2 linked regions of the Homo sapiens genome follow. The main gene of each other region encodes a partner of the protein of the gene in region 2 in a complex. Each region holds a gene or a part of one and is shown on either strand. Other genes may lie near its edges. A codon is read from its position in the direction of its gene.

The links.
Region 1: the proteins of UNG (region 2) and RPA2 are in contact, whole or in part, in an NMR structure (PDB 1DPU), measured with the Homo sapiens proteins. Residues at the interface, in NP_550433.1 of Homo sapiens: Arg73 (codon at 8,547), Ile74 (codon at 8,544), Asn77 (codon at 8,535), Lys78 (codon at 8,532), Ala81 (codon at 8,523), Leu82 (codon at 8,520), Arg84 (codon at 8,514), Leu85 (codon at 8,511), Arg88 (codon at 8,502); in NP_002937.1 of Homo sapiens: Ser250, Asn251, Glu252, Gly253, His254, Ile255, Tyr256, Ser257, Thr258, Val259, Asp260, Asp261, Thr267.

What each region holds. Positions count from the first base shown.
Region 1 is NC_000001.11:27,896,706-27,912,595, forward strand, and holds part of RPA2 (replication protein A 32 kDa subunit), read right to left. Parts: intron 10,578-15,890; coding exon 10,476-10,577; intron 10,337-10,475; coding exon 10,223-10,336; intron 1,003-10,222; coding exon 928-1,002; intron 417-927; coding exon 300-416; intron 1-299. UniProt on the Homo sapiens protein: As part of the heterotrimeric replication protein A complex (RPA/RP-A), binds and stabilizes single-stranded DNA intermediates that form during DNA replication or upon DNA stress.
Region 2 is NC_000012.12:109,091,066-109,107,062, reverse strand, and holds the start of UNG (uracil-DNA glycosylase), read right to left. Parts: upstream 9,467-15,997; 5' UTR 9,384-9,466; coding exon 9,252-9,383; intron 8,892-9,251; exon of another isoform or gene 8,737-8,891; coding exon of another isoform or gene 8,632-8,736; coding exon 8,425-8,631; intron 7,875-8,424; coding exon 7,779-7,874; intron 5,162-7,778; coding exon 5,064-5,161; intron 4,225-5,063; coding exon 4,136-4,224; intron 3,631-4,135; coding exon 3,452-3,630; intron 1-3,451. Other genes in the region: DNA oxidative demethylase ALKBH2, read left to right, coding at 14,277-14,556. UniProt on the Homo sapiens protein: Uracil-DNA glycosylase that hydrolyzes the N-glycosidic bond between uracil and deoxyribose in single- and double-stranded DNA (ssDNA and dsDNA) to release a free uracil residue and form an abasic (apurinic/apyrimidinic; AP) site.

The sequences.
Region 1 (15,890 bases), on a different chromosome or scaffold from region 2:
GAGCTAAGAGCTATATAAGAGCTAAGAGCCTATAATTACATGTCTACACCTGAGGGTTGTCACAGGCCTCAGCTGTCCAGGCCAGTGGAGTCAGAGGAACTCCTAATTCTGAGAGAAACATGAGTGTTTCATCTGGAATAAAATACAATGACAAAGCTAATGGAGAAAGTGTTCTGAGGACTTAGTGATGTCTTTCTCTGGCTCGGCCTTCAAAATATCAAGGAAATCAAAGCTGGAACACAAAAGTAGCCTGTGTTCTTCCAGGGAAGAGAAAAAGCTAGGAAAGCGAGACTACTCACCTGGCTGTTGGCTTTGCTTAGTACCATGTGTGCATTGATCACTTCCAGAATATGTGTGGTGAACTCATTCATATCCTCCAGGGGCATGATCTTAAAGGCTACCAGGCTCTTTTTGTTCTATTAAAATGAAGGAAAAAAATGTGAATAAAATATGAACATACATTAATTTCAGGTCAACACTGTGGCTCTTTCCTTGGTTATAATATTAATATTTCACCAATATGAGAAAAATGTTATATACTCTCAGAGGTATTCCAAATATGGTCAAACATGAGGAGAAAAAAAACTAAAACTAATAGCTAAGGGACATTAATAATTTTCCCAAGATTGCATAACCAAGCAAAATCTAGACTCCTGACTCCGAATCTAGTGTTCTCCTTTCTCCAACTAATGAACGCCACAGATAGCAATTGTAGAAGGAGATTCTGTTCTTTCTTTACCATTCTGTTAATTTCATGTTAAGGTTAAAAAAAAAAAAAAGAAAAGTTATTTCCTTTTGAAGAGAGTAAGAAATAACTTCCCATTAAACAGGGAGACTTAAGTATTTTAACTATCCAAAAGCCATGACATGAATCTAGAAACTGCTTCATGCAAAAACACTTTAACTGTTATTTTATTCTGACTTTACCTGAAAAGATCTCAGGTGGCCTGCCACTTTCACATATGTTTCTGGAGGAACCACAGTGTTTTCACTGCTGGTGTCCTAACATAAAATACAAACATGTCATTAAAGTTTTAGTGATGCTGGTAAAAGCCTCTTTAACGTTTCTATATTATGTATAGAAAGAGAAAGTTACGAAGTAGAAGAGTTAAAGGATCCTAAAATGGCATTAAGTAGTTTGCCCTGCCTTTTACAACTTATTTTGTAAAACCAGGAATTAGAATAAAAATATCTCTAAAGGTAATTATCAGTTCCAAAGTTCTGTAGCACATCATAAAAAAGCAAACAATTGTGACACTCTCGTTCAAGCTCTTAGGCACACAATTTTCTTTTTTCTTTTTTTGAGAGGGAGTCTCGCTCTGTCACCCAGGCTGGAGTGCAGTGGCACGATCTTGGCTCGCTGCAACCTCCGCCTCCCAAGGGAGGGTTTGAGTAATTCTCCTGCCTCAACTTCCCCAGTAGCTGGGATTACAGGCGCCCGCCACCACGCCCGGCAGGCACACAATTTTCTGGTGGATATACTTATTGGCAAAGCAATTCTACTTTTAGGAATTTAAGGAAGTAATTAAGAACATGCATTAAGATTTAGATTTATCATAGTATAGAATATTAAAAATTTTAAAACAACCTAAATATCCAACATAAAGTACACATTTCTATATAATAGGATACTCCACACTGTTGCAAATGATAACATAGAATTCTATTTACTGCCTGGAAAAACAAGTCATGATACATGGAAAAAAGCTGATTTCCCATTTGGGACAATACACACTAAACTGTTTATAATGGTTGACTAAGATAATTAAAAACGATTTTAATACTTATCAGTTTCCTAGAATATGCACACATTATTTATAAGAAAAATACATTAGCTGATTTTTTTTTTTTTTTTTGAGACGAAGTGTCTTGCTCTGTCACCCAGACTGGAGTGGAGCGGCATGATCTCGGCTCATTGCAACCTCTGCCTCACAAGTTTAAGTGATTCTCCTGCCTCAGCCTCCCAAATAGCTGGGACTATAGGCGCCTGCCACCACACCTGGTTAATTTTTTTGTATTTTTTTTGTATCTTTAGTAGAGACGGGGTTTCCCCATGTTGGCCAGGATGGTCTCGATCTCCTGACCTCATGATCCACCCGTCGCGGCCTCCCAAAGTGCTGGGATTACAGGCTTGAGCCATCGTGTCCGGCCCATTAGCTGATTTTTAAAGTTCTTTTCTGACTACATAAAATGTATTACTTTAAAAAAAATTGAAAATATATCGGGGTATATGGACTCACACCTGTTATCCTAGCACTTTAGGAGGACAAGGCAGGAGGATCCTTCGAGCTCAGGAGTTTGAAACCAGCCTGGGCAACATAGTGAGACCTCGTCTCTAAAAACAAACAAAAAACTAGAAAATATATGCTTAAAAATAAAAACTCTGGCCAGGTGCAGTGACTCATGCCTGTAATCCTAGCATTTTGGGAGGCCAAGGCGAGCAAGTCACTTGAGGTTAGGAGTTCGAGACCAGCCTGGCCAACGTGGTGAAACCCTGCCTCTGTTAATAATACAAAAAAAAGGGTGGGCACAGTGGCTCACGCCTGTAATCCCAGCTCTTTGGGAGGCTGAGGCGGGCGGATCACGAGGTCAGGAGTTCGAGACCAGCCTGGCTAACAGGGAAACCCTGTCTCTACTAAAAATGCAAAGATTAGCCAGGTGTGGTGGTGGGTGCCTGTAGTCCCAGCTACTCGGGAGGCTGAGGCAGGAGAATCACTTGAACCCAGGAGGCAGAGGTTGCAGTGAGAGACTGTGCCACTGCACTCCAGGCTGGGCAACAGAGCAGGACTCTATCTCAAAAAAAAAAAGAAAAAAAAAAAAAAAAAACCACACAAACAAAACAATTGTATTCCCATATACAACATTTTGAATCCACTTGAGAAAAGATCTCTACCTCAACTCCTTTTATCAAAATATATTCCATGTAGATCATAGGTTTAATTATAATAAAAGAAACCATAGAAATAATATGAACAATTTTTTTCTTTTTTTTTGAGACAGAGTCTCGCTCTGTCGCCCAGGCTGGAGTGCAGTGGTGGGATCTCAGCTCACTGCAAGCTCCGCCTTATGGGTTCACACCATTCTCCTGCCTCAGCCTCCCTAGTAGCTGGGACTACAGGCGCCCGCCACCACGCCCGGCTAATTTTTTGTATTTTTAGTAGAGACAAGGTTTCACCCTGTTAACCAGGATGGTCTCGATCTCCTGACCTCGTGATCCGCCCGCCTCGGCCTCCCAAAGTGCTGGGATTACAGGCGTGAGCCACGGTGCCCGGCTTTTGTATTTTTAATAGACAGGGTTTTGCCACATTGACCAGGCTAGTCTTGAACTCCTGACTTCAGGTGATCCACCCGCCTCCGCCTCCCAAAGTGTTGGGATTACAGGCGTCAGCCACCGAACCCAGCTGAGATTTATTTATTTGGTTTTTTGATAAGGTCTCGTTTTATCATCCAGGACGGATTACAATGGTGGGATCTCGGCTCACTGCAGCCTGTGCCTCCCGGGTTCAAGTGATTCTCCTGCCTCAGCCTCCTGAGTAGCTGGGATTACAGGCATGCACCACTGTGCCCGGCTAGTTTTTGCATTTTTAGTAGAGACGGGGTTTTACCTTATTGGCCAGGCTGGTGTCAAACTCCTGGCCTCAAGTGATCCACCTGCCTCAGTCTCCCAAAGTGCTGAGATTACACGCATGAGCCACCGCACCTGGCCAACAGCTCTTTTTTAATCTGAAGTATATATTGGGTGGCTGCTTAAGATTTTTTTTTTTTTTTTGAGATAAGGTCTCGCTCTGTCACCCAGGCTGGAGTGCAATGGCACAATCTGGGCTCACTGCTACCTCCACCTTCAGTGGGGCAAGTAACAGCAGATGTGGTGGAAATAGCAGGAGAACTGGAATTAGAAATGGAGCTTAAAGATATAACTGAATTGCTGTAACTTTATGGTAAAACTTGAGTGGATGAGGAGTTGCTTCCTTTTTTTTGAGACTGAGCCTCACTCTGTTACCCAGGCTGGAGGGCAGTGGCACAATTTTGGCTCACTGCAACCTCCATCTCTCAGGTTCAAGTGATTCTCCTGCCTCACCCTCCCGAGTAGCCAGGATTACAGGCATGTACCACCATGCCCAGCTAAATTTTTTATTTTTAGTAGAGACGAGGTTTCACCATGCTGGCCAGGGTGGTCTCAAACTCCTGACCTCAAATGATCTATCTGGCCGCCTGGGCCTCTCAAAGGAGTTGCTTCTCATGGATGAGCAAATAAACTGGTTTCTTGAGATGGAATCTCCTCCTAGTGAAGATGCTGTGAACATTGTTAAAACGACAATAAAGGATTTAGACTACTCCATAAGTTTAGTTGAGAAAGCAGTAGCAGGGTTTGAGATTGAATCCAATTTTGAAAGAAGTTATACTGTAAGTAAAATGCTATCAAACAGCATGATATAATATCGAGAAATTTTATGTGAAAAGGAGACTCAGTTACTCAGGCAAACTTTGTTGTCTTATTTCAAGAAATTGCCACAGCCAGCTCAACCTTCAGCCAACTACCACCCTCCTCAGTCAGCAGCCATCAACAGTGAGGCAAGAATGTCCACTAGCAAAAACATTATGAATTGCTGAGGGTTCGGATAACTGATTATTACAATTTGTTAGCCATAAAGTTTTTTTTTTTCTTCTTTTTTTGAGAGACAGTTTCGCTCCTGTTGCCCAGGCTGGAGTGCAATGGCGCGATCTCAGCTCACTGCAACCTCCACCTCCTGGGTTCAAGCGATTCTCCTGCCTCAGCCTCCCAAGTAGCTGGCATTACAGGTGCCCACAACCACACCTGGCTAATTTTTGTATTTTTAGTAGACAGGGCTTCACCACATTGGCCAGGCTGGTCTTGAACTCCTGACCTCAGGTGACCCTCCCGCCTCGGCCTCCCAAAGTGCTGGGATTATAGACGTGAGCCACCGCGCCCAGCCACCATAAAGTATTTTTTAACTAAAACAAACAAACAAAAAAAACAAACTTTGGGACTAGTAGAAGCTTCCGAAAGGTAAACTAGAAAAAACTGCACAATTTATTTTTCAAAATTATTTCTTTTTGAGATAGGGTCTTCCCATGCTGCCCAGGCTGGTCTTGAAATTCTGGCCTCAAGTGATCTTCCTGCCTAAGTCTCCTGAAGTGCTAAAGTTACAGGTGTGAGCCACTGTGCCTGGCCTCATTATAAGAGGTCACTATAATCATTTTCAAGTTCTTGCAAACAAAAACACTGTTAGGGGAAGGGGAATCAAAGAGAAAATTTACAAAAACCCCACAAATTGACATTAAACATAGTAAAAAAAAAAATACATATATATGGCTAAAACCAAAGAAATACACATAAAAAAATGACAAAATTTTCACTGAAAAGACTATTTTTTTCTGAGATGGAATATTGCTCTGATGCCCAGGCTAGAGGGCAGTGACGCAATCTTGACTCACTGCAACCTCCATCTCCCAGGCTCAAGCAATTCTCCTGCCTCAGCCTCCCGAATAGCTGGGACTACAGGCACGTGCTACCATGCCCTGCTAATTTTTTAATTTTTTTTATTATTTTTACGTATACTTTTTTTTTTTTTTGAGACAGTCTTGCTCTGTTGCCCAGGCTGGAGTGCACTGGTGTGAAGATCTCCGCTTACTGTAACCTCTGCCTCCTGGGTTCAAGCGAGTCTTGTGCCTCAGCCTCCCGAGTAGCTGGGACTACAGGCGTGCACCACCATGCCAGACTAATTTTTTTATTTTTAGTAGAGACTGGGTTATACCATGTTGGCCAGGCTGGTCTCAAACTCCTGACCTCAGGTGATCCACTCATCTTGGCCTCCCCAAAGTCCTGGGATTACAGGCATGAGCCACCGCACCTAGTCAAAAAGACTATTTTTTAAAACAACTATCACACTGGCAAAAATTTAAGACAAAAACCCATTGTTATAAAGGGTATGGAGGATAGGCACAGAGGCTCACACCTGTAATCCCAGCACTTTGGGAGGCTGAGGTGGGAGGATTGCTTAAACCCAGGAGTTTGAGACCAGCCTATTTCTTAAAAAAAAAAATGTTAAGGGTATGGAAACTAACTGGGCACTCTCATGCATGACTGAAGCGTAAACTGGTACCTTTAGAGAAGACAGTACAAAAATGCAAAAACTAAGATGTTAAAAAAATGTCAAATGTGTATTTCCCCCCAGAAAACCTACTTTTAGGAATACATCTTATGATTATTTTATTTTTTTGAGATGGAGTTTTGCTCTTGTTGCCCAGGCTGAATGCAATGGCACGATCTTGGCTCACTGCAGTCTCTGCCTCCCAGCTTCAACTGATTCTCCTGACTCAGCCTCCCGAGTAGCTGGTATTATAGGTGTGTGCCACCACGCCCAGCTAATTTTGTATTTTTAGTAGAGATGGGGTTTCACCATGTTGGCGGTGCCGGTCTTGAACTCCTGACATCAGGTGATCCACCTGCCTTGGCCTCCCAAAGTGCTGGAATTACAGGCGTGAGCCACGACGCCTGGCCTTACGATTATTTTATAATCATGAAGAAATGTATGCAAAGATACTCACTGGAGCATTGTATATAATAGCAAACGACTGAAAAGAAGTTAAATGTTGTTCCCTGACTGGGTCCACTGTTAAGTAAGGGATGATGTATTCTTATAATGGAATCGGTGGTCATTTAAAATGATAGATGTAAATCTTTACAGATAACATTAAAAAATCAGTTCTTGGCTGGGCCATGGTGGCTCAAGCCTGTAATCCCAGCACTTTGGGAGGCTGAGGCAGGATCACCTGAGGTCAAAAGTTCGAGACCAGCCTGGCCAACATGTTGAAACCCCGTCTCTACTAAAAATACAAAAATCAGTTGGGTGTGGTGGTGCACGCCTATAGTCCCAACTACTCGAGAGGCTGAGGCAGGAGAATCGCTTGAACCCGAGAAGCAGAGGTTGCAGCGAGCCAAGATTGCACCAATGCACTCCAGCCCGGATAACACGAGTGAAGCTCAGTCTCAAAAAAAAAAAAAAAAATCAGCTCCTCACCAGGCACGGTGGCATCAGCCTATAGTTCCAGCTACTTGGGAGGTTAAGGCCAAAGGATCACTTGAGCCCAGGTTTGAGGCCAGCCTAGGCAGCAAGCCAAGACCCTGTCTCTATTTAAAAAAAAAAAAAAAAAAAAAAAAGGCCAATGGCTCATGCCTATAATCCCAGCACTTTGGGAGGCCAAGGCAGGTGGATCACCTGAGGTTGGGAGTTCGAGACCACCCTGACCAATACAGAGAAACCCTGTCTCTAATAAAAATACAAAATTAACCAGGTGTGGTGGCACATGCCTGTAATCCCAGCTACTCTGGAGGCTGAGGCAGGAGAATTGCTTGAACCTGGGAGGCGGAGGTTGTGGTGAGCTGGAGATCGCGCCATTGCACTCCAGCCTGGGCAACAAGAGCACAGCTCCATCTCAAAAAAAAAAAAAAAAATCAGTTCCACAACATAATTTTGAGTGAAAAGAGCAAATTACTTAGCAGTTGCATAGCATATTATCCCTTCTACAGTAAAAGAGGTATGTGGACACCTGTATGTACATATATGCAGAGACAGATGTCTGAAAGGGTATTTTCCAAAATGTGTCGTAATAGTAGTTCTTTAAGAGACATGAGATGTCAGGTGATTTTTTAAATGGTTTATAAGCAAGCATAGTGCATTTTATATGAACAAGTAGTATTAGGTATCCATAGTATCTACCTCCCTGCTTGATGGCAGGGACTGTGTCTACCTCATTCTTTTTATACCTGGAACCAAGCACAGTCTAGTTCAGAATTGGTACTCCAACAATAACTGCTGAATGAATTATCCTTTATTTTTCTGAGAAGGAAAAAATTTAAAAATTACATAACTACCAAGTTATTTCTCTATAGATAACTTGTGGTTTTTGAAGGAGAACCGCATTTTTTTTTTTGAGTCAGTCTTGCTCTGTTGCCCAGAGCAACAGAGCAGTGCGCAATCTGCTGGAGTGCAGTGGCGCAATCTTGGCTCACTGCAACCTCTGTCTCCTAGGTTCAATCAATTTTTCTGTCTCAGCTTCTGGGTAGCTGGGATTACAGGCACCCAGCTCATTTTTGTATCATTAGTAGAGATGGAGTTTCATCACGTTGGCCAGGCTGGTTTCAAACTTCTGACTTCAGGTGACCCGCCAGCATTGGCCTCCCAAAGTGCTGGGATTACGGGCGTGAGTCACCATGCCCAGCCTAAAACAGTCTTTATTATCCAAATTTTCTGTAATGAATGTATTTCAAAAACAAAATACAAAACACCAAGAGGCCTTCTGCACAATTGAAAAATAAAAGGATAAAAAGTATATACTGTATTTCAGTCTATTTTATCCATGTTTATAAAGACACTTATATATATGCTGCTTTGTAAAAATTGGGTCAAATCCTGCATACCACATTGTAATATGCTTTTCTCAACAATTTATGGCAAACACTTCTTTGTGGCAATACACGCTTTTCTGTATCATTTGTAGTATGTTATAAATGTGTCATGGTTTACTTAATAATCCTTTATTGCTAGTATTTTGAGATTGCTTTATTTTTATTTATTCATTTTGAGACAGAGTCTTGCTCTGTCGCCCAGGCTGGAGTGCAGTGGCATGATCTCGGCTCACTGCAACCTCTGCCTCCCAGGTTCAAGCAATTCTCCTGCCTCAGCCTCCTGAGTAGCTGGGATTATAGGTGCGCAGAACCACGCCCGGCTAATTTTTGTATTTTTAGGAGACGGAGTTTCACCTGTTGGCCAGGCTGGATTCGAACTCCTGACCTCAGGTGATCTGCCTGCCTTGGCTTCCTAAAGTGTTGCGATTACAGGCGTGAGCCACTTCACTGGCCTAAATCTTTGTACCTGTCTTTAATTCTTTCCTTGATGTAAACTCCTAAGCTGTGGAGTTCTGCTAGGTCACCACTGTTTGTCTTTTTTTGTTTTGAGGCGCAATCTTGGCTCACTGCAAGCTCCGCCTCCCAGCTTCATGCCATTCTCCTGCCTCAGCCTCCCGAGGAGCTGGGACTACAGGCGCCTGCCACCACACCCGGCTAATGTTTTGTATTTTTAGTAGAGACAGGGTTTTACCGTGTTAGCCAGGATGGTCTTGATCTCCTGACCTCGTGATCCGCCCACCTCGGCCTCCCAAAGTGCTGGGATTACAGGCGTGAGCCACCATGCCAAGCCAAAAAGGAGCTTTATATTAATTAAAAATTTAAATGTTTGTAATATGTTGCAAATATTTTCCACATTCATTTAAACAATACTTATTCCAGGACCACTATGTGACTAGCACTGCTCTAGGTGCTAAGGCTACAGCGGTGACCAAGATAAAAATCTTTGTTCTAGGCCGGGCGTGAGGGCTCATGCCTGTAATCCAATCACTTTGAGAGGCTGAGGAGGGTGGATCACCTGAGGTCAGGAGTTTGAGACTAGCCTGGCCAACATGGCAAAACCCCATCTCTACTAAAAATACAAAAAATTAGGTGTGGTGGCGGGTGCCTGTAATCCCAGCTACTTGGGAGGCTGAGGCAGGAGAACTGCTTGAACCTGGGGCCCAGAGGCTGCAATGAGCTGAGATTGCGCCATTGCACTCCAGCCTGGGTGACAGCACAAGATTCTGTCTCAAAAAAAAAAACCAAACAAACAAACAAACAAAAAAGCAGGGGCTGGGTGTGGTGGCTCAAGCCTGTAATAATCCCAGCACTTTGGGAGGCCAAGGTAGGTGGATCACAAGGTCAGGAGTTCAAGACCAGCCTGACCAAGATGGTGAAACCCCATCTCTAGTAAAAATACAAAAATTAGCCGGGCGTGGTGGCAGGTGCCTGTAATCCCAGCTACTTGGGAGGCTGAGGCACAGGATCGCTTGAGCCCGGGATGCGGACGTTGTAGTGAGCCGAGATTCCACCACTGCACTGCCTGGGCGACAGAGTGAGACTCTGTCTCAAAAAAAACTTTGTTCTAATGGAACTTAACATTCTACTGTCTCCTGTCATTTGACTTTTAATTCTGTTTTTGGTATATTGGGAAGGTATATAGTCAAATCTACTAACCTTTTACTTTAGAGTATCTGTCTTTGATGTCTTTTTGTATTATTTTTATAAGAAAAAACTTTAAAAAGACTAAAAAAGTTCAACATCTCCACAGTTCCAAAGTAACCCCATCATGATTCAAAAACAGCCACTTACATCTGTGTCAACCCACTGGCGAACGTCCATGGGTGCAGCTGTCATGTCATCTATTTTGTAAACAATGTTGGTTGGAGCCTTCTCTGCATGTCTGATGATCCCCACAATAGTGACCTAGGTTAGAAGAAACAAAGAAAAAAAAAAAAGGTCTGGTTCCCCCTGAAACCAAGGCTACATTTTTGTATTTTTTAATGAAGTCTTATTTCATTCTTTATTATGAGTAAGTGATTCTTTCACAAATTATTTGACATACCTGTGAAATCTCAACATTCCCAATTCTGAACACTTCATCAACCAAAGTGGCAGAAAGCAGCTGAGATATAGTACAGGGCACAATGTGCTGGGCTCGGGCTCTCTGAAAAGAAAAAACATGCAAAATTCAATTAAGAAAGTAATAACTACCACTCATTCAACACCTGCCATGTGCCAAGTACTTTAAATATATTAGAACATTGAATTTCAAAACAAATCTCATTATCCTTGCTTCAGAGAGATGGAAACCAAGGTCATATAGCAAACCAATACCACACTTTTAGAATCCAAACCCAGGTTTGTCTAACTCCAGAGCTCCTGCTGAATAGATACACATGTTGCTCTGAGAATTCACCAAAATGAATAGGTCAGAGTGGGGGACAGGATAAGGAAGAATGACCTGCTGCTGCCAGAACAGACCTTCAAGAGGAAACCCCAGCTTTAGGGTGTAGACAGGCTGGTGCTGCTGTTCAGGTCACTGACAAAATGAGATGGTATTGGGAAAAGGTTTGAGAAATGACTAATGGAGACAGGACTTTGGAATTGCTTGTAGGTCTTGTGATGAACTGTAAAAGGTAGAAGAATAGCTTCTTGTAGGACAGATTTTTTGACTATCAAATGGAGCTCCTGGGGAAATGGAGTAAGAGCTTGGCCATGTTGGACATCTTTTTAAATTTTTTTTCTTTGAGACAGAGTTTCGCTCCTGTTGTCCAGGCTGGCATGCAATGGCGTGATCTCAGCTCACTGCAACCTCCGTCTCCCGGGCTCAAGCGATTCTCCTGGCTCAGCCTCCTGAGTAGCTGGGACTATATGTGCCAGCATTTTGCATTTTTAGTAGAGATGGGGTTTCACCATGTTGGCCAGGCTGGTCTGGAACTCTTGACCTCAGGTGATCTGCCCACCTCAGCCTCCCAAAGTGCTGGGATTACAGGTGTGAACCACTGCCCTCGGCCAAATTTTGTTTTGAGATGGGGTCTTGTTCTGTCACTCAGGCTGGAGTGCAGTGGCATTACAGCTCACTGCAGCCTCAAACTCATGGGCTCAAGCAATCTTCCTGCTATAGTCTCCTGAGTAGCTGGGACTACAGGCACACCACCACATCCAGTCAATTAAAAAAACATTTTTTTTTTTGTAGAGATGGGGTTTTGCTATGTTGCCCAGGCTGGTCTTAAACTCTTGGTCTCAAGTGATCCTCCGACCTTAGCCTCCCAGTGTTAGGATGACACACATAAACCACTGTGCTGGACTCATGTTGGACGTCTTAGGGGGAAGAGGCAGGATAGGGTAGGCAGAACAGTATCTAGTGAGCACACTCAAATTATATCTTTTTTTTTGAGATGGAGTCTCACTCTGTTGCCTAGGCTGGAGTGTGGTGGCGCGATCTCAGCTCACTACAACCTCAATCTCCTGGGTTCAAGCAATTCTCCTGTCTCAGCCCCCCCGAGTAGCTGGGATTATAGGTGCACGCCACCATGCCCAGCTAATTTTTCTATTTTTTTCTAGAGATGGGGTTTTGCCATGTTAGCCAGGCTGGTCTCGAACACCTGACCTCAGGCAATCTGCCCACCTCGGCCTCTCAAAGTGTTGGGATTATAGGCGTGAGCCACCGCGCCAGGCCCAAATCATATCTTAAAGCAGCCAGACAACAGTGTAAACTTATTTTTGCCTACCAGTGGCAAGAGGTAGTCTGGGTAACATGAAGATGAATATGATGGGACAGGATTTACCCTCAACATATTCCTAATCTAGGGGAGGTACAAAGGTAAACAATAAACCTGATCTTGATACACTGTAAAATGAAACATGCCATGTGGGACCTCAGAAAAGCTTACTGGCAAAAGAGGGAGGCTTTAGGCTGAACTCTGAAGCACGAGAATTTCAACAGCGAAAAAGTAGCAGGTAACAGGCTGAGGGCAAGTATGTACTCCCAGTCTCCTAGAGGGAATATGTACAAGGCACAAAAACGATGAGAGCTCTTCCTGTCAGAAGCCAAGAGGAAGTGGACCAATACCTGTACTACATGGAAGACTTAGAACACAGTAGACTCTTGGCCTTCATGGATTTAGCAGTCGCAACTCTGACCTGAACATCCACGACACTGCCAATATTTCATTTTGCTGAAGCATGATTGTGAATGGTGAGTATTGCCACAACAGGATAAAGCAAGCTCAGTCAACCGCTGGCACATATGCCACAAAAGGCAGCAGCCAAGCTTGAGGGTTAAGATTGTGGCTCTATTCTCAAGAGCAGCTGCTTGGCCAGGCGTGGTGGGTAACGCCTGTAATCCCAAGGCCGAGGCGGGCAGATCATTTGAGGTCAGGAGTTTGAGATCAAGCCTGGCCAACATGGCGAAACCCCATTTCTACTAAAAATTTAAAAAAAAAATTAGCCAGGTGTGGTGGCGCATGCCTGTAATCCCAGCTACTGGGGAGGCTGAGGCAGGAGAATCACTTGAACTCGGGAGGCGGAGGTTGCAGTGAGCCGAGATCATACCATTGCACTCCAGCCTGGGCAACAGAGACTCTCCTCAAAAAGAGAAAAAAAAAAAAGAGCGGTCGCTCTTGGTCACATGTATTAACTCATTTGTACCTCGGTTTCCTCATCTGCAAAACTAGGAATGATATTATAAAAATTACATGGTAAAGGACTCAGAATACTACCCAGCACAAAGCACTCAATAACAAATTTTAGCTATTATTATATTAGCTATTGTTCCTCATTCTTTACATTTGCAATAGCTTTTAATAACAACGTTGACAGGATCAACTTTTTCAATTTTACTTTATGGTATTTTATAGGTAAAGTTACATGCTATGTTAATATTTATAGTCTTAAAATTTGCAGGGGTCCCAGGATTTACCTCTCACAAACTACTATATTTCTGTTTTTACCTATCACAGCTGAGATTTTCATTGTATCTTCAGCATAAGAAAACTTAAGAACCAGTAAGGTAAAGTGGCAAGAACATGAGGTTTGGAGCCAGAGAGTCCTGTAGACCCATGCTCAAATCCCAGCTCCAAAGTCCTGGACACATGACCACCTTTTCTGAAAACTGGGGATATACACCTCTTAAGTTGTAAATGAGACACATAACATATATGAAGTGCTAATACCAATCTCTACATGTAGTAGATGTTTGACAAATATTATTACCTCTCAGGTAAAAATGTTACATATAGGTAACAGTTGAGATGTTAACAATGCCTTCAAATTCATCTCAAATCAAGTATTTATTTTTTATTGAGCATATATTTTATGTAGGAATTGATCACAAGGAATTCCTAGTCTGCTCCAAAGAGGTTCACAAAGTGTCAATAAAAATATGCTTAATTTTGGAAAAACAAAAACAAAAACACTTTCAAACTAAAAAAATTTTCATAGCTGACTATGAACCACAGACTACTCTGACAGTACTTCAGGAAAGTACCATTATTACAGATTAAAATTGGGTCGCTATTTGAAACTTCACATGGTTCAATCATATTGAACAAATACATAATCAACAGGAAACATTTTGGATAGAGTTCTTTATCACCCAGGGATGGTGCTGCACACCTGTAATCCTAGCTACTTGGGAGGCTGAGATGGGAGGATCCCTTGACCCCTGGAGTTAAGAGTCTGTGGTAAGCTATGACTGCACCACTGCACTCCAGCGGGGGTGAAAGTGAGACGGTCTCAATTTTAAAAGAAAAAAAGAATAGGGCGTTTACCTAACTTTTAACTGTGGAAAATACTAGATTTAAAAACAAAACAAGGCCAGGCGCAGTGGCTCATACCTGTAATCCCAACACTTTGGGAGGCCAAGAAGAGCAGATCGCCTGACGTCAGGAGTTTGAGACCAGCCTGACCAACGTGGCAAAACCCCGTCTCCACTGAAAATACAAAAATTGGCCAGGAATGGTGGCATGCGCCTGTAGTCACAGCTACTCGGGAGGCTGAGGCAGGAGAATCGCTTGAACCCAGGAGGTGGAGGTTGCAGTGAGCTGAGATTGTTCCACTGCACTCTGGCCTGGGCAACAGAGAGACTGTCTCAAAAAAAAAATAAAAATAAAAACAAAAAGACTGTCCGGGTGTGGTGGCTCATGCCTGTAATACCAGCACCACGGGAGGCAAGGGTGGGAGGACTGCTTTAGCCCAAGAGTTTGAGACCAGCCTGGGCAACATAGTGACACCCTGTCTCCACAAAAAGAAAAAAAAATTCAGAGACTGGGATTGAGTCTCCAACTTACAAGCATTATTCTCTGAAAAGCTATCTTAATACCCAGCTTTTAGGAATTCTGAGATAAAAATTATAATAACCAGAATGGAGAAAAATAGTTAAGCTTGGGAAGAAAAGATGAGAACCAATCATCTACCTTGTTTTCTCCTTCACAACCTCAAGAAAATCAGAATAGAGAATTAAAGTCCCTTGAGATCTTCTAGGAAAGAGAAAACTACAACAGGGAGAAGTTGCTGCTCATCAGATGTTGGATTTGTTCAGCATCATGTGCGTACTGTCTGATTCTAGTTCCTTACTAGCTATGTAAGCTTAGGCAGTCCCTTAATATACCTGAGTCTCTGTTAGTATGCTGGAATAAACAATAAATTCCTTACAGAATTACATAAAATAATTTATATGAAAGTTATAAAGCGGCCGGGCACGGTGGCTCACACCTGTAATCCCAGCACTTTGGGAGGCCGAGGCGGGCAGATCACGAGGTCAGGAGATCAAGACCATCTTGGCCAACATGGTACAACCCTGTCTCTACTAAAAAAATACAAAAAACTAGCCGGGTGTGGTGGCGGGCGCCTGTAGTCCCAGTTACTCGGGAGGCTGAGGCAGGAGAATGGCGTGAAGCCGGGAGGCAGAGGTTGCAGTGAGCCCAGATTGTGTCACTACACTCCAGCCTGGGCGACAGAGTGAGACTCTGTCTCAAAAAAAAAAAGAAAGAAAGTTATAAAGCAATGTCCAAATATACCAGAATATCATTGAGTTTTTTAACTTGCTTACACTGAATCTTAACATATCTGAGTGATTCCTAAAGAGAAGTCAAATTAACCTCACATTTATAAAATGAAATTGCAGTTGTTAAATGCAAACTCAGCTGGGAATGGTGGCTCACACCTGTAATCTCAGCACTTTGGGAGGCTGAGGTGGGTGGATTGCTTGAGGCTAGGAGCCTGAGACCAGCCTAGCCAACATGGCCAAATGCCACCTCTAAAAAAAAAAAAAAACACAAAAATTAGCCTGACACCGCAGTGAACATAGGTAGTACCAGCTGCTAGAGAGGCTGAGGTGGGAATGATCACTTGAGGCATGGAGGTCCAAGCTGCAGTGAGCTGTGATCACACACCACTGCTCTCCAGCCTGGCAGAGACCCTGTCTCAAAAAAAAAGGCAAACTCATTTCAGAGTGACTAAACATTTAGACAGCTTT
Region 2 (15,997 bases):
GTAGCTTATTGCTCCTGGTCTACAAACCTGTGTAGCATGTTACTGTACTAAATACTATAGGCAACTGTGACACAATGGTAGGCATTTGTGTATCTAAACATAGAAAAGATGCAGTAAAAATATTTTTTATATATATATATATACACATATATATATACGTATATATATATGTGTATATATATATATGTTTTTTTTTTGAGATAGAGTCTCACTCTGTTGCCAGGCTGGAGTGCAGTGGCATGATCTCAGCTAACTGCAACCTCTGCCTCCCAAGTAGCTGGGACTACAGGCACACGCCGCCACACCTGGCTAATTTTTTGTATTTTAGTAGAGACAGGGTTTCACTATGTTGCCCAGGCTGGTCTCAAACTCCTGAGCTCAGACAATCCACTCGCCTCGGCCACCCAAAGTGCTGGGATAACAGGTATGAGCCACCACACCCGGCCAGAATATTATAATCTTATGGGACCATCGTCATATATACAGTTTATGACTGAAACATCATTATGTGGCAAATGACTACTTTGATTTTTTTAAAATATCAACTATAGTTATTTTAACAGGGAGATATAGACCATTTTTGTTTTCCTCTTCTTTTCTGTATATAAAAACTAACGAACAAATCACTGTTTCTCAAAACACTCTTGCCTTCAAGGGGCTCAGTCCAGGAGGGGCGATGAGGGGTGAGGACTAAAGCCAGGCAATCCAGTGTGGTTAAGAGTACAGAGCCTGGAGCCAGACTGCCCGGGGTCGAGGCCTACCTCTACCCTCAGTAGCTGTACCACAGAGAAGTTGCTGCAACTCTAAGCTGCTTCAGTTTTCATCTGTAGACTGGGAATAACAATACCGCCCAGCTTATGAAGTTACTGTGACCAATCAAATGAGGATCACAGGGGCTGAGTGTGATAAGAAGTCATGCACACCAAATGCTGAACACACACGCAAGCAGCACAGGCCCCTGTAAATGTCAGCCCTGCAGAGCTCTAAAGAATCCCAGAAGAAAATGACCTCTACACTGTAGGCAGAGAAAGCAGGATATGCAAAGGCAGGGAAGTGGGGCACCGTGAAAAAGTAAAGGGGAATGGGTCAGCCTAGGGATCGGAGTGCAAAGAGGGATAGAGTTAAGTCTGGGAGGCCGATTGGGGGCCACCCCTCTACCCCCCTGAAATCAGATCTTCAGCCTAAGGCAAGGCCTTCCAGGGAGAAAGCATCAGAACCCTCCAGGCAAGATCAGGTGAGGGCCTGAATGAAGGCAAAGGTGGTCAGGCAGGGGTAGATTTGGAGGGGGAAGAAAGAACACAGATATGAATGACTGACTGACTGGGAAGGTGGAAAAAAAGGACAGAAGAGGGGAGAAAGAGAGGTAGGCAGGTGTCAGTAATAGATCTGGCTGGACAACTGGGCAGATGATGGTGCTTTTTGCTGCTAGGGAGTGCAGAGGAGGAAGTTTAGTGAAGCATGGATGAGAAAAGGAGAAACTTCGTTTGGAAAATGTTGAATTTGGCATGTTCATGGGGCAGTAGTAACAAGGCACTCTATAGATCAGAAGAGACACTGGGCTGGAGATATGCAATTTGGCTTTAATGACCAAGCTACTTTAACAACTGTTTACTTTCAGACCAAACCATGATTAAAGATTACCAATATACTGCGGAAGAGCAACACTGGCCGTAAACCTCCCTAAGGGATAGAGATTAGCAATTACTCTCACGCACACTTCTTACATACCTAGATGATCACATCTTAGCAGTTCATACCAGTCAGATCTTAGGTCACTCATACAAGTGTATGCCTACCTCAAAGCCTTTCTGAGAGTTAAGTAAGATTCTGCATGCAAAGTACTCAACCTGGTCGGGTGCGGTGGCTTACATCTGTAATCCTAGCACTTTGGGAGACCAAGATGGGAGGATCGCTTGAGGTCAGGAGTTCAAGACCAGCCTTGTCAACATGGTGAAACCCAGTCTCTACTAAAAATAAAAAATATTAGCTGGGTGTGGTGGCAGGCAACTGTAATCCTAGCTACTCAGGAGGCTGAGGCAGGAGAAGTGCTTGAACCCAGGAGGCGAAGTTGCAGTGAGCCGAGATCATGCCACTGCACTCCAGCCTGGGTGACAGAAAGACTCCATCTCAAAAAACAAAAGTGCTCAACCTAGTACCCACACAAGGTAGGGGTTAAATATACGTGCACATTTCTGATACCCCCGTTACCTCCTGCTGATACACCAAAAACTATTGTCAGGTTACCTCTGCTAAGCCCTTGCCTTCGATCATTGAAGCATTTACTCTATAATTTCTCCCCCACCCAATGTCTCTCCCATTTGCCAGGGATGAACACACCCCTGGCTCGTCTCCTTCCCACCCCCTATCTCTCCCTCCTCCACTCTGCGGCTCTCCATCAAGCCTCCATCTCTAGTCCATCACGGTTCTCCTGGAGAAAGATGATGGTGACTCATGCCTGAAGGGCAGCAGTGGCGAATGAGAAGCAGTAGACTGGGGTGTTTTGGGAGGCAGAGTTGATGGGATTTACTGATGGGATGGAGGATTCAAGGATGACTTTTAGGTCTCTGATTTCCACAACCAGGTGTAGAAGTGCTTCAGTGAGTGAAGGGAAAGAGGGAGGTAGCAGATAGGGGGAAGATGTAGGGAGGGGAGCCACTGGTTTGGTCGTGTTGGGTATCTGCAATTAGACCTTGGGGTTAATAATGATCACCGATAGGCCGGGTGTGGTGGCTCATGCCTGTAATCCTAGCACTTTGGAGGTTGAGGAGGACAGATCGCTTGAGGTCAGGAGTTCAAAACCAGCCTGGCCAACATGGTGAAACCCTGTCTCTACTAAAAAATAAAAAAAAATCAGCCGGGTGTGGTGGCGGGCGCCTGTAGTCCCAGCTACTCGGGAGGCTGAGGCAGAATCACTTAAACCCAGCAGGCGGAGGTTGCAGTGAGCCAAAATCATACCACTGCACTACAGCCTGGGCAACAGAGCGAGACTCCATCAAAAAACAAAAAACCCAGAAACAAAACAATAATGATCACTGATAGTATTTTCATGGGCAAGTTAAATTTGTGATTGAGTGGAATTCTTTGTGTTTTCTATATGTTCCCAAATTTCTTGGAAGCCAGAAACATGCCTCATCCATCACTTGTTAAGTGAATGGTACCCAGGGACTTGTATCTTGTAGACACCAAGTTCATGCCTACAGCACCAACTGCATTCAGTCACAAGTTGGCCAGTTGCTTTGCTTTCCTCATACACAACTCATCACCCCTATAATTTGTCCAAATTCTTCTCAGTTTTCAATGGGAAACCCTTATAACAGGCCTAAGGGAAAATAAAAGTTATTTTATAACATGGATTTTCCAGGACCAAACACAGCAGGGACTCCTAGAATTCTTTACATTGTTTTTATAGTGTTAAAAAAAAAAGAAAAAAAAGAAAGAAAACAAAACATACCCTATCAATGGCACTGCCCTTCTTCTGAGCATAAGAGCCCCAGAGCAAGAAAACAAGGCCATTCGAGTTCTGATTTAGCCAGGACACAACTGCATCAGTGAACTGCTCCCAGCCTCGCTCCTTATGAGAGTTGGCTTGATGGGCACGAACCGTGAGGACAGCGTTGAGAAGGAGAACACCTATACACATGAGAGAAACAGGTTAAATGTAGGCTCAGGCAAATCAGCCCAATACCCAGCAACAGGAGCTAAATCCATGATGAAACCAATGCTTGATGGGATCCAGTGTAGCAAGCTGTGCTTCCCTGCTGCAGCCGGCATAATGGCAGCAGCCACTACCATCAACAATGGAGTCGGGGCTGGGCGTGGTGGCTTATGCCTGTAATCCCAGCACTTTGGGAAGCCGAGTCGGGCGGATCACCTGAGGTCAGGAGTTCGAGACCAGCCTGGCCAACATGGTGAAACCCTGTCTCTACTAAAAATACATTAAAAAATTAGCCAGCTATGGTGGCTCATGCCTGTGGTCCCAGCTACTCAGGAGGCTGAGGCATGAGAATCGCCTGAACCTGGGAGGCAGAGGTTGCAGTAAGCTGAGATTGCACCACTGCACTCTAGCCTGGGCAACAGAGTGAGACTCGGTCTCAAAAAAAAAAAAAAAAAAAAAATCTAGCAGTCGCTGGCTTACCTTGCTTGGCCCACCCAGATAAATCTCCATGGCCAGGATGAACAAAATCCTCTATGTCTGTAGACAACTCTTTATAAATGTTCTCCAAACTGAAAGCAAGCCACAAGAAAAACAAAAAACAGAATCTTAAGCATAATTTTGAAAGCTCAGTAACGTCTAAGACATATGTGAAAAGGTTAGAAGTTACAGCCAGCCCTTGGAAGGGACACTGGCACATATGGCGCCGATTAATGAGATCAACACTGCCAGTCCTCCTTCTAACAGGTGACTCTGCCAAAGACCTTTACTTTAGTCTGTACTTGGATTTAACAGCACTCTGGAAAACCTAAGTAAATCAACCCAGCAGTTACAACCCAGACCCCCACTGTTGCTCAGGGACAGTTTTCTGTCCTTAGCATATTTATGTATATCATACACCAAATCCTCCAAAAGCAGTGGTTCTTTTTTTTTTTTTTCCAGTCTTGCTGTGTCACCCAGGCTAGAGTGCAGTAGCAGGATCTCGGCTCACTGCCACCTCCGCCTCCCGGGATCCAGCGATTCTCCTGCCTCAGCCTCCCAAAGTGCTGGGATTACAGGCGTGAGTCACCGCGCCCGGCCCAAAGCAGTGGTTCTTAACCAGGGGTGATTTTACGCCCCCAAGGGACTTTTGGCAATGTCTGCACATTTTTCATTATCACGAGCTGGGGGTTGCTCCTGGTTTCCAGTGGTAGAGGCCAGGGATGTGGCACAAGATCCTGCAATAGCACAGGACTCCTCTCCTCCTCCACAACAAAGAATGACTCAGCCCCAAATGTCAATGGTGCTGAGGCCGAGAAATCCTCCTCCAAGGCTAGTGAACAGTGCCCCAGATAGTCCCACTTGTAATAAGCTAAGTACACATCTGAAAGGAATCATGTCTGGACTGCAGTCACCTGTAAAGCAACTGTACCTGGGCGGAGGCGGAACAGGCCTTTGAACACTAAAGCAGAGCCCGTGAGCTTGATTAGGTCCATGATATGGATCCTGTCCCAGGATGACAACCTTCACCTGTGAACCACCAGGGGTCAGGAATTAAACAATACTGTAATGTAAGCAGCACAGACCCTGCCTCAAACAAACATAAACAAAACAAATAAAACACTTCTATGGCATAGATTGCTAATAGCAGAGTTGCTGGTCAAAGGCTAAGCGTATTTTAAACTTGTAAAGATATGTACCTAGCTGCTTTTTTAATTTTTTGAGACACGGTTTTGCTGTGTTGCTCAGGCTGATGTGCAGTGGTGCCATCACAGCTCATGGCAGCCTCGCCCTCCTGGGCTCAAGTGGTCCTCCCACCTGAGCCTCCAGAGTAGCTGGGCCCACAGGAGTGCACCACTATGCCCACCTAATTTTTTTTTTACTTTTTGTAGACACACGGCCTCCCTTATGTTGCTGAGGCTGGTCTCAAATTCCTGAGATCAAGGGATCCTCCCTCCTCGGCCTCCCAAAATGCTGGGATTACAGGCATGAGCCACTGTGCCTAGCCCCCAGTTACTTTTCGATGAATTAAAGCAATTTAGGGCCTGGCATGGTGGCTCACGCCTGTAATCCCAGCACTTTGGGAGGCCGAGGTAGGCAGATCACGAGGTCAAGATATCGAAACCATCTGGCCAACATGGTGAAACCCCATCTCTACTAAAAATACAAAAATTAGCTGGGTGTGGTGGCGCACACCTGTAGTCCCAGCTACTCGGGAGGCTGAGGCAGGAGAATCGCTTGAACCCAGGGGGTGGAGGTTGCAGTAAGCCGAGATTGCACCACTGCACTCCATCTCAAAAAAAAAAAAAAAAAAAAAAAAAAAAAGCAATTCAGATTTCCCACCAGCAGCATATGAGGGTGTCTGCTCCCCTATATCCTCTAACAGGTGGAGCCAGAAGAGAATGAGGTCAGATCAAAAGGGCCATGGGAGTAGGTGGCAAGAGACAATGAAATGAAATGAAGTTCCTGTCACGGGAGGTGTTGAAACATAGGCCGCCTCGTCCTTCCCATCCAGGGCCCACCCACCTAGTCTTCATTCTCAAGCTTCTGCCATTGCGTTCTTAGAATCTTCCTCCACAGCTGACATACTCTATCTTTCAGAATCCAGCTCCAGATGTTCCATGACCAGGAGGCTTTTGGGGACCTCTTGTCCCTCCCCTTGGTGTTCACACCATGCCAACATATTCTCTTGTGAAACAACTCTCCCAATGCTGGTCTGTCAAGAAGCCCTGCTGGCCCATCTGATCCTCATAGGTTTGAAACTGGTTTTTGAGCATTCCCTCAAAATATTCCTTTTAATATTCCCTGTTTATACTGATTACTGGTATTCAGAATAGGGCATTCAAACAAGAAGCAAATTAGTATTGATCTTAATAGGATTTAATTTAGCTTCAAAACCAAAGAGCTAGATTCTAAATTCTTACTCTAAAATTAAGCTTACGAGATTTTCTAAGTATTAGGTGTGGCTGCCTTATCAAGATGATTTATTCACCTATTTCACTTCTATGTCATTTCACAGATATTCATTAAATCACAAGATTCTTGCCCCAGTTTACAAAACGGGGGAGGAAAACGGGTAAGAAACCTAAAAGTCCAGTGTCAGCAGGTGCTAAATGCATCGTAGCAGCTCAGAGGAAAACTGGATCACAGAGGTGGCAGGCAACGGACTTCAATTCAAGGAGGTGCCACAGAGGCATCTACTTGATTTTTAAGAGACAGAAGTGGGGAGGGGTTTGCCACACTGTCCAACTCTGGAGTGGGAGAGTGGGAGGTGGAGGTAAGGCTGAGAGGTAGGACGTGGCCCTATTTAAAGAGGGTTGCTCTGCTTTCATAGTTCAACAGTGAGAAGCCACGGTTTTTTTTTTGTTTTGAGACAGGGTCTGGCTCTGTCGCCCACGCTGGAGTGAAGTGGTGTGATCTCAGCTCACTGCAACCTCCGCCTCCTGGGCTCATGCGATTCTCCCACCTCAGCCTCCCAAGTAGCTGGAATTACAGGCGTGCGCCACCATGCCCGGCTAATTTTTGTATTTTAGGAGAGACCAGGTTTCATTGGTCTTGAACTCCTGACCTCAAATGATCCTCCCACTTTGGCCTCCGAAAGTGCTGGGATTACAGGCATGAGCCACCGTGCCCAGCCCCACGAACTTCTGAACACAAGATGGATGAGAGCCGCCAACCAGCAACTGTTATATAAGACAAACTAAAGCAAAGGGATCTGATAACAGAACCACAAAACTGTTCAGGCCAGAAGTCAAGAGCTTGAAAGTGCTAACTATAAGGCAGTGTGGTCAGGTCAAGGTGGGGTTGACTATAACAAGCTGCAAAAGATTTAACTGCTTTGTGTGTCAGTTTGAACTTCACCACCACCATAACATCTGACACCGCGGGAGGTTAGTTTCAGGATTTAAAAAAAATACAAGAAATAAGAGCACAGGATGTACATAGTTTTCCTTTTTGCCACATAAATACCACGTGGTAAACATTAAAAAGAGTAAATACAGGCTGAAATACAGTCAGCCAAACCTCGGGATTTCAGTGTTTTATTTACTACTGAATGATGGACTGTGGCTTAACTCCAGTGTCCCTAATTTAAAAATACTATTTGACTCCTTCTCCCCAATAAAAATTATCAACAAGTTGTACTTACATCTTTTATGTCACACATCTGGGTCCAGGTGAAGACTTGGTGTGGGGGTGGATAAACAGTGTAATGCTTTCTTTCTTCTGCAACAAATCCCATTAGCTGATTTAAAGATAAACTAGACTTAAAATCAGATTCTCATTGGAAACCATAAGAATTCAATAAGAAAGCTTCTAGTGCAAGTTATTTGGAACATCATTAGTTCTTTGTCATGTTATGTCCAAATTCTTTTAAAAAACAACAAACAAAAACAGTGCCTGCCCCCCCACCTAAGTGGTTCAATCAGGTCAATTCCTTGCCTCTTTCTCTGGGCTGGGTCCTGACAGTGCCACTCCTCTCGGCTTTTTAAAGCTCAAGCCAGGTTTCATTCAGGATGGTTGGTGATTTTACTACGCCAGCCTTTCCTGGACAATAGACTATGTGACTTAAATGAATCCATGATATCATCTCGCGGGTCGTTAACAACTTTAACCAATATAAAGCTGCAGAGTGAAACATCATGGCTTTCTTTTACCCCCTTTGTGAGTAAAGGAGGTTGAAGGGGGTACAACCTAAGCCTACGGAAACATGAACTTGGCCGGCTACACTAACAAGACAAAAGGGCCGGCAGCCTCCACATTTACCCTTATGGAAGGTGCATTTCCATATTTACCTTGATAAAATACGGTTTCCCGAACTCCCCGCTGAGGTGCTTCTTCCAGCTCTCTCCAAAGCCCACGGGCACGTTGCGGGCCGCGAGTCTGAGCAGGGCCGCGGCCTTGTTCCTCTGGATCCGGTCCAACTGCTCGGCACTCAGCGGCGAGGAGGGCGGCGTCCCAGGCTCCTCCTGCCCAGCCGGGGCCTTCTTGGCTGGGATGGCCTGCAAGTGGTCCCCGCAGAGGCGGCTCAAGAGCTGCAGCGGCCCCTTCCCAGGCGTCCGCAGCTTCCGGCCCAACCCCCACGGCCCAAGGCAGAAGACGCCCATTTGTGGAACAGGTCCCAGCAAAAGCGGACAGTAAGAGCCCAGGGCTGGGCCCGGTCCGGGAATTGGGAATTAGGTTCTAAACTGGAGCGGGGAGACGGGCTGGGAGGCGCCCTATGGCTTCCCGAGGAGCGTCGCGGTGACTGGGAACCCTGCACAGAGGTGCCCCGCCCCCGCCAGACCCGCCCCACCGCGTCCCCACGTGGTCTTTTCGCGGCAAAAAACCTCCCTCTGGGTCCCGCCCCCTCTCCCCTCTGATTGGACAGCGCACCGAGCCAGGAGGGCCTGCGGCGCGCGGATTGGCGCCATGGGCCCCGAGACGCGTTCCCATTGGCTGGCCCTTTAGCATGGCGGCCCATGGGGGACAGCGGCGGCTATTTTGAACACGTGGAGGCTATTTGGAAAGCGGAGCCCGGGTTTACCGAGTCAGAGGCGCGATCCTGCACGCCCTCCGTCAGGCGGGGCCCACCGCCTTCCTCCCCCTTCACCCCCTAGCCCCGGCCCAAGCCGCGCCTCACCGCCGCATCTCCGCTTTCCTCAGGCACCCCAGCCACGCCGGTCCCCTGGACGGCCGGCTCGGGGCTGGGGGCGTGTCGCTTCCTGGCGGGGCTGGGGGAGAAAAAGGAGTAGAGCGTCTTCTGGCCGATCATCCTGGAGCTGAGGAGGCAGCGAACGCGCGCCACCCGGGAACCGGCGAGGCTAGCCCTGGCTGTGGCTGTGGCGGTCAGCAATTGGCGCCAAGCGGCCCGCGCATGCTCCGAGCGGGGGGCTTTGCTGGGGGCGGGGGGCGGTGGAAGGCCCAGTGCGCATGTGCGGGAGGGGCTGGAGTGCAACGCCCCTGGGAGGAGGTGGGGCGTGCAACGGTGCCCGGGGGCCTATTCTTTCATTCGCTTTGTGCCTTCAGCCCACCTCTGCTCTTTGGACAGGCTCTTAAGGCTCAGCTGCAAGAAGAGAAGACTGGTCAGGCGCGGTGGCCCACGCCTGTAATCCTAGCGCTTTGGGAGGCCCAGGCTGGAGGATCGCTTGAGGCCAGAGGGTCTGAGCTGTAGTGAGCTTTGATCGCGCCAATGCACTCCAGGCCTGGGCGACAGAGCGAGACCCTGTCTCTCGGTGGGGTCGGGGGGAGGGGGCTGGGAAGAAAAGTTCCTGCCCCTTAGGGGTGTTGTGGGAGTGCAATGAACAATATAATAATATTGTCCGGGCTTGATGGCTCACGTCTGTAATCCCCGCACTGTAATCCGAGGCATCTCAAAAACAAACAAACAAACAAATACTATTATATTTTGTGTGTGTATTTTGTTTTTGAGACAGAGTCTTGCTCTGTCGCCCAGGCTGGAATGCAGTGGTGTGATCTCAGCCCACTGCAACCTCCGCCTCCCGGATTCAAGCGATTCTCGTGCCTCAGCTAGGATTATAGGCGCGCGCCACCACGCCTGGCTAATTTTTCTATTTTTAGTAGAAATGGGGTTTCACCATGTTTGCCCAAGTGTGTTTTGTATTTTTTTAGTAGAGATGGGGGATCTCACCATGTTGGCCAGTCTGGTCTCGAACTCCTGACCTCAGGCGATCTGCCCACCTTGGCCTCCCAAAGTGCTGGGATTACAGGCATGAGCCACCACACCCAGCCAATATTATTTGTTGAACTGTTATATACATTTTCTCACGCAATTTTCATGGCCTATTTTATGACGATAAACTAAGGCTTAGTGCAGTCAAACATTTTGCCTAATGTATCAGGCTTGTGGGAGACTTTCGGGTCATAGAGGTTAAACACCAACGATTTGTCTTCCAAATGACACCACTGTACCGAACCTCCTCCCACCACTACTAATACACTTAGGATTCTCTTTCCCTCCCTCACATCCAAACCATCCATATCTGCTTTTGGTTCTTTCTCCAAAGCAAACCTCAAATTCAACTGCTGCTCTTGCATCTCCTAGCTACAGAAGACCAGCTGGGAAGCTGGTGTTCTCTTTTCTAGAGAGAGATTTTTACATCATGACAATACCTGGGGCCTGGCCCAGCTCGGTGGCTCACGCCTGTAATCCCAACACTTTGGGAGGCCAAGGAGGGGCGTATCGCTTGAGCACAGGAGTTCGAGACCAGCCTGGCAAACATGGTGAAACCCCGTCTCTACTAAAAATACAAAAATTAGCCAGGCGTGGTGGCATGCATTTGCAATCCCAGCTACTCAGGAGGCTGAGGCAGGAGAATCACTTGAACCCGGGAGGCGGAGGTTGCAGTGAGCTGAGATTGTGCCACTGCACTCCAGCCTGGGTGACAGAGCAAGACCCTGTCTACAAACAAAAAAAAGAAAAAGAAAAAAAAGACAATCCTTAGGTTAAAACCCTTCTTTGGTTTTCAAAAAGGCTTAGAATAAACCCCAGCTTCCTACCCAGGTCTCAGTGCTGCCTCCTCTCTGATGGAAGCCCCCACTACTGAGTCCAGCTCCCAGCACAATTGCTGGACACACCCAGCTTGTCCCCCTGTGGCCTGCACACCCTTGCATTCACCGTCCCCTTGCCTGGAAAGCCTCAGGTCTCAGCTCAGGATCTTTCCCTGAAAAGGACTTCTCCTCCTGCCCCACTTTCTAGCCCATTGCTCTATAACTGCTATACTATACAAAAGCATCTTATTTATTTTTTCTTTTTACACAATTTCTTTAGAGACAGCATATTATTTATTCTTTCCTTGTGTGTTTCTGTCTCCATCCCCGAAATGTAACCTGAGTGAAGAAAGGAACTTGCTGCTTCTTGTTGCTGGTGTGTCCCAGTGCCTAGGACAAGAAGCTGAAGTCTAAGGGAGAGAGGCTCAAAGCTGAAAATCATTTGCCCTTAGAGCCACTATGACCCAGCACTCCCACACCTAGGCATTATTTACCCAAGGGAAATGAAAAACTATATTCACAAAGCTTGTATGTGAATGTTTATAGTGATTTTACTCATAGTAACCTAAAATCAGAGAAACAACCCTATGTGGGGCCTACTCCTGTGGGGCATCCCTTCTATACCAGTAATAAAAAGGAACAAATAAGTAATACAAATGTGCATATACGACTGGGCACAGCGGCTCATGACTGCAATTCCAGCACTTTGGGAGGCCAAGGCAGGCGGATTTCTTCAGCTCACCAGCTGAAGACTATGGAGACCAGCCTGGGCAACATGGCAAAAACCCATCTCTACAAAAAATACAAAAATTAGCCGGGTGTAGTGGTGCATGCCTGTAGTCCCAGCTACTTGGGAGGCTGAGGTGGGAGTGGAGCCTGGGAAGTGGAGGTTGCAGTGAGCCGAGATCATGCAACTGCACTCCAGCTTAGGCAGTAGAGCCAGACCTTGTCTCACAAAAAAAAGCGGGGAGGTGGGGGGGCGCATAAATGAATCTTAAAAGCAATATGCTTAAGTGAAAGAAGTCCCACAAAGGCATTTCTCATAGAGGCTGAGAGGTCCGAGGTTGAGGGGCTGCATCTGGTGAAAACCCTCTTGCTGGTGGGGACTCTGTTGAGTCCTGAAGCCGTGTAGGGCATCACATCGCGAGGGGCCTGAGTGTGCTAGCTCAGGTCTCTCTTCTTCCTTTTATAAAGCCACCAGTCCCACTCCCACGGTAACCCATTAACCCATTAACCCCTGAGCCCATTAATCTATTAATTCATTTATGAGGACATTATGACAGAGCTCTCATGTCCCAATCACCTCTTCAAGGCCCCACCTCTCAATACTGCCACACTGAGGATTAAATTTCAACGCGGATTTTGGAGGAACAGATATTCAAACCACGGCAATTCCCTGTATATGAAATTCTGGAAAAGGCAAAACTATAGGGAGAGAAGACAGATCAGTGGTTGCTGATGCTGGGTGATGGGCGAAGTTGATTAAGAGGCTGGAGCAGTTTTATGGAGGGACGGAACTGTCTTAGATCTTGATTGTGGTGGTGATCATACAATATTGTACATTTGTTGAAATCTGTCAAAACAAAGCCTCTGATCTCATGGAGCTTTCGTTCCATTGAGGGGAGACAGAGTAAATAAAAATTAGGAGCCGGTCGTGGTGGCTCACGCCTGTAATCCCAACAATTTGGGAGGCCCAGGTGGGAGGATCACTTGAGCCCAGGAGCTTGAGACCAGCCTGGGCAACATAGCAAGGCCCTATCTCTACTAAAAATAATAAAAAAATTATTTAGGGTGGGGTGGGATGTGCCTGTAGTCCCAGCTACTCCAGAGGCTGAGACGGGAGGATCGCTCTAACCCAGGAGTTCAAGGCTGCAGTGAGCTATGATCATGCCATTGCATTCCAGCTTGGGCAACAGAGTGAGATCCTGTCTCAAAAAAACAAAACAAACAAGAACAACATCAAAAAACAAGAAAACAAAGAAAAACGAGCAATAATGGAACCAACATTTATTTAGAGGACAGAGCATTTCTCATGCATCCTGTCATCTCCTCAGGCGCTCTCATGACATAGGTGCTGTAGTCCGCACTTCACAGATGAGGCAACTTAACCCCAGAGAGGTTAAGTGACCTGTGGGAGGCCACACAGCCAGGGCGGAGGAGACAGAAACAGAATCCACGATATCCGACTGCAGAACTCCTGCTCCCACTCGTGACAATATACTGGTGGCCCAACGCCCTTTCCGGACACCAAAGTAACCCTCACTGAGAAGTGACGCCAAGCCACAGTTCTCACCCCAGCCGTGATTCTCGACAGTGGCCCAACAGGTGATCAACGGGAAAGCGGCAGTGCTTGCCACACACGGGAGGCCAGCAGGTGGCACCAGGGGGCCGCCCGGCTGCTCTCTTTGCGCCCTAGCCTGCCGTAGTTCCCAGCGTGCTCCGGAAGTGACGCGACCGATTCGCTGGGGCGCGTCTTTCCCACCACGAGGCCACCAGGGTGACTGCGGGATTCCGATCTGCGCCGGAGCTGCGATGCTAGAGCACTCTTGCCACCCCCACCCCACGGACGTGTTGCAGTGATATCAGAATTTTGCGTGCGGTTTACCCGTGTTTAACCTCTTTGCGTCTCGCTTCTGAATCGTATCCACTTGAGCATCACTAGACTGATCTATTTTAACACTGGTGGGGGGCAGCGAGGTCAGTTATGGGTCCTTCCTCCTTAAAGGGGTGGACAGTTGACTTTGGGCAAACCTCTTCGCCTCTGTGGGCAACAGTTTCCCCTTCTGCAAAATGAGGGTTTGGATTGTAGTTTCTAAGTTTAGCTGTGGCGTGCGAATTCCCAGGAGGTAGTTCTTTAAAAATTCAGGTGCTCAGGCGTGGAGTGCAGACCTCTGGGTTTTTGCAAGCTAGCCAGCTGATTCTGATGCACAGGTGGACGTGGGAGACCCTGGATCAGATTGTCCCTAGGGTCCCTTCCGGCTTTAACATCTTCTGTTTCCTTTCTAGGACATGGTTTTAAACTTTAAAATGAAAATGTGAAACTAGGAATGTTGCTGTGAGACCCCTTGGACAAACAGATTTTTGCACTGGGGATAGAACTTGAGCAATTTCTGTCTTGGCCTCGCCACTGACGTCCCTTCTTTCCTGTGGGGACAGGATGGACAGATTCCTGGTGAAAGGGGCTCAAGGGGGCCTTTTGAGGAAGCAGGAGGAGCAAGAGCCAACTGGAGAAGAGCCAGCTGTGTTGGGAGGAGACAAAGAAAGCACAAGGAAGAGGCCCAGGAGAGAGGCCCCAGGGAATGGAGGCCACTCAGCAGGCCCTAGCTGGCGGCACATTCGGGCTGAGGGCCTGGACTGCAGTTACACAGTCCTGTTTGGCAAAGCTGAGGCAGATGAGATTTTCCAAGAGTTGGAGAAAGAAGTAGAATATTTTACAGGTAAGCAGAGGGGTGTGTGTGTGTGTGTGTGTGCATTGAGGGCTTGTTTGGTGCAATTAATGATCGTATGTTTGGAGAAATCTGAACTCAGGATCCATTATTTACTGATGGGTTCACTAATGGATTCATCCAATATTCTCTGAGCACCTCTGGGCTAAGCCCCTTAGGTGCTTGGGACATAAACTTGAAAGAAACTGGATTGCCTGTCTACTAGGAGCTGACAGATGACTCGAGTGAATCTCTCCTTGGCTACTGATGAGTATCTTCTGGGAAAGTTTACAAAACAAAGTAAAAAAACGTGCTGGGTTCTACTGCAGAGCACTTCAATCAGAATCGCTCCGAGTGCAGGCTGACCACTTGTTTGTTTAAAAAGCTTCCAGGTGATTCTCATGGGCAGTCAGGGTTTGAGAATCACTGGTCTCATAGGAGAGATGGCAAATAACCAGGTAATTTCTCCACACCAGTGGTTCTCAGCATCACCTGGTGGACTTGCTGTTGGCAGGACTTGGATTGCTGGACCCTACCCCTGTGGTTTAGTTTAGTTTCTAAGGAGAGTCCAGGTGCTGCTGGTCTGGGGAGCACATGTTGAGAACCACACCTCTATCCTGTAATGAGGACACAAGGATCTGGCAGAGAGGCATAGAAAAGCCCACAGGAAGCTAGGCGTGGTGGCTCGCGCCTGTAATCCCAGCACTTTGGGAGCCCGAGACGGGCGAATCACTTGAGGTCAGGAGTTCGAGACCAGCTTGGCCAATATGGTGAAACCCTATCTCTACTAAAATACAACAACAACAACAAAAAATGAGCTGTGCGTAGTGGTGCATGCCTGTAGTCCCAGCTACTTGAGAGGCTGAGGCAGGACAATCACTTGAAACCGGGAGGCAGAGGTTGCAGTGAGCCGAGATCGCACCACTGCACTCCAGCCTGGGCAACAGAGTGAGACTGTGTCTCAAAACAAAACAAAACAAAAAACGAAAGCCCACAGGCCAGGCACGGTGGTACACACCTGTAATCCCAGCTACTCTGGAGGCTGAGGCAGGAGGATCACTTGAGGCCAGGAGTTCAAGTCCAGCCTGGGCAACATAGTGAGACCCCCTCGTCACTTTATTCTTTTATGCTTTGAGACAGGGTCTCGCTCTGTCACCTAGGCTGGAGGGCAGGGGCACGATCTTGGCTCACTGCAGCCTCGTCCGCCTGGGCTCAAGTGATTCTCCCACCTCAGCATCCTAAGTAACTGGGACCACAGATGTACACCACCAAGCCTGGATAATTTTTAAATTATCTGTAGGTCTCACTGTGTTACCCAGGCTGTTAATTGAACTCCTGGCCTTGAGTGATCCTCGCCTTGGCCTCCCAAAGTGCTGGGATTGCAAGCATGAGCCAGCGCGCCTGGCTCACCATCTCTTTAAAAAAAGAAATGCCCACAAGAGACCCCAGCAGT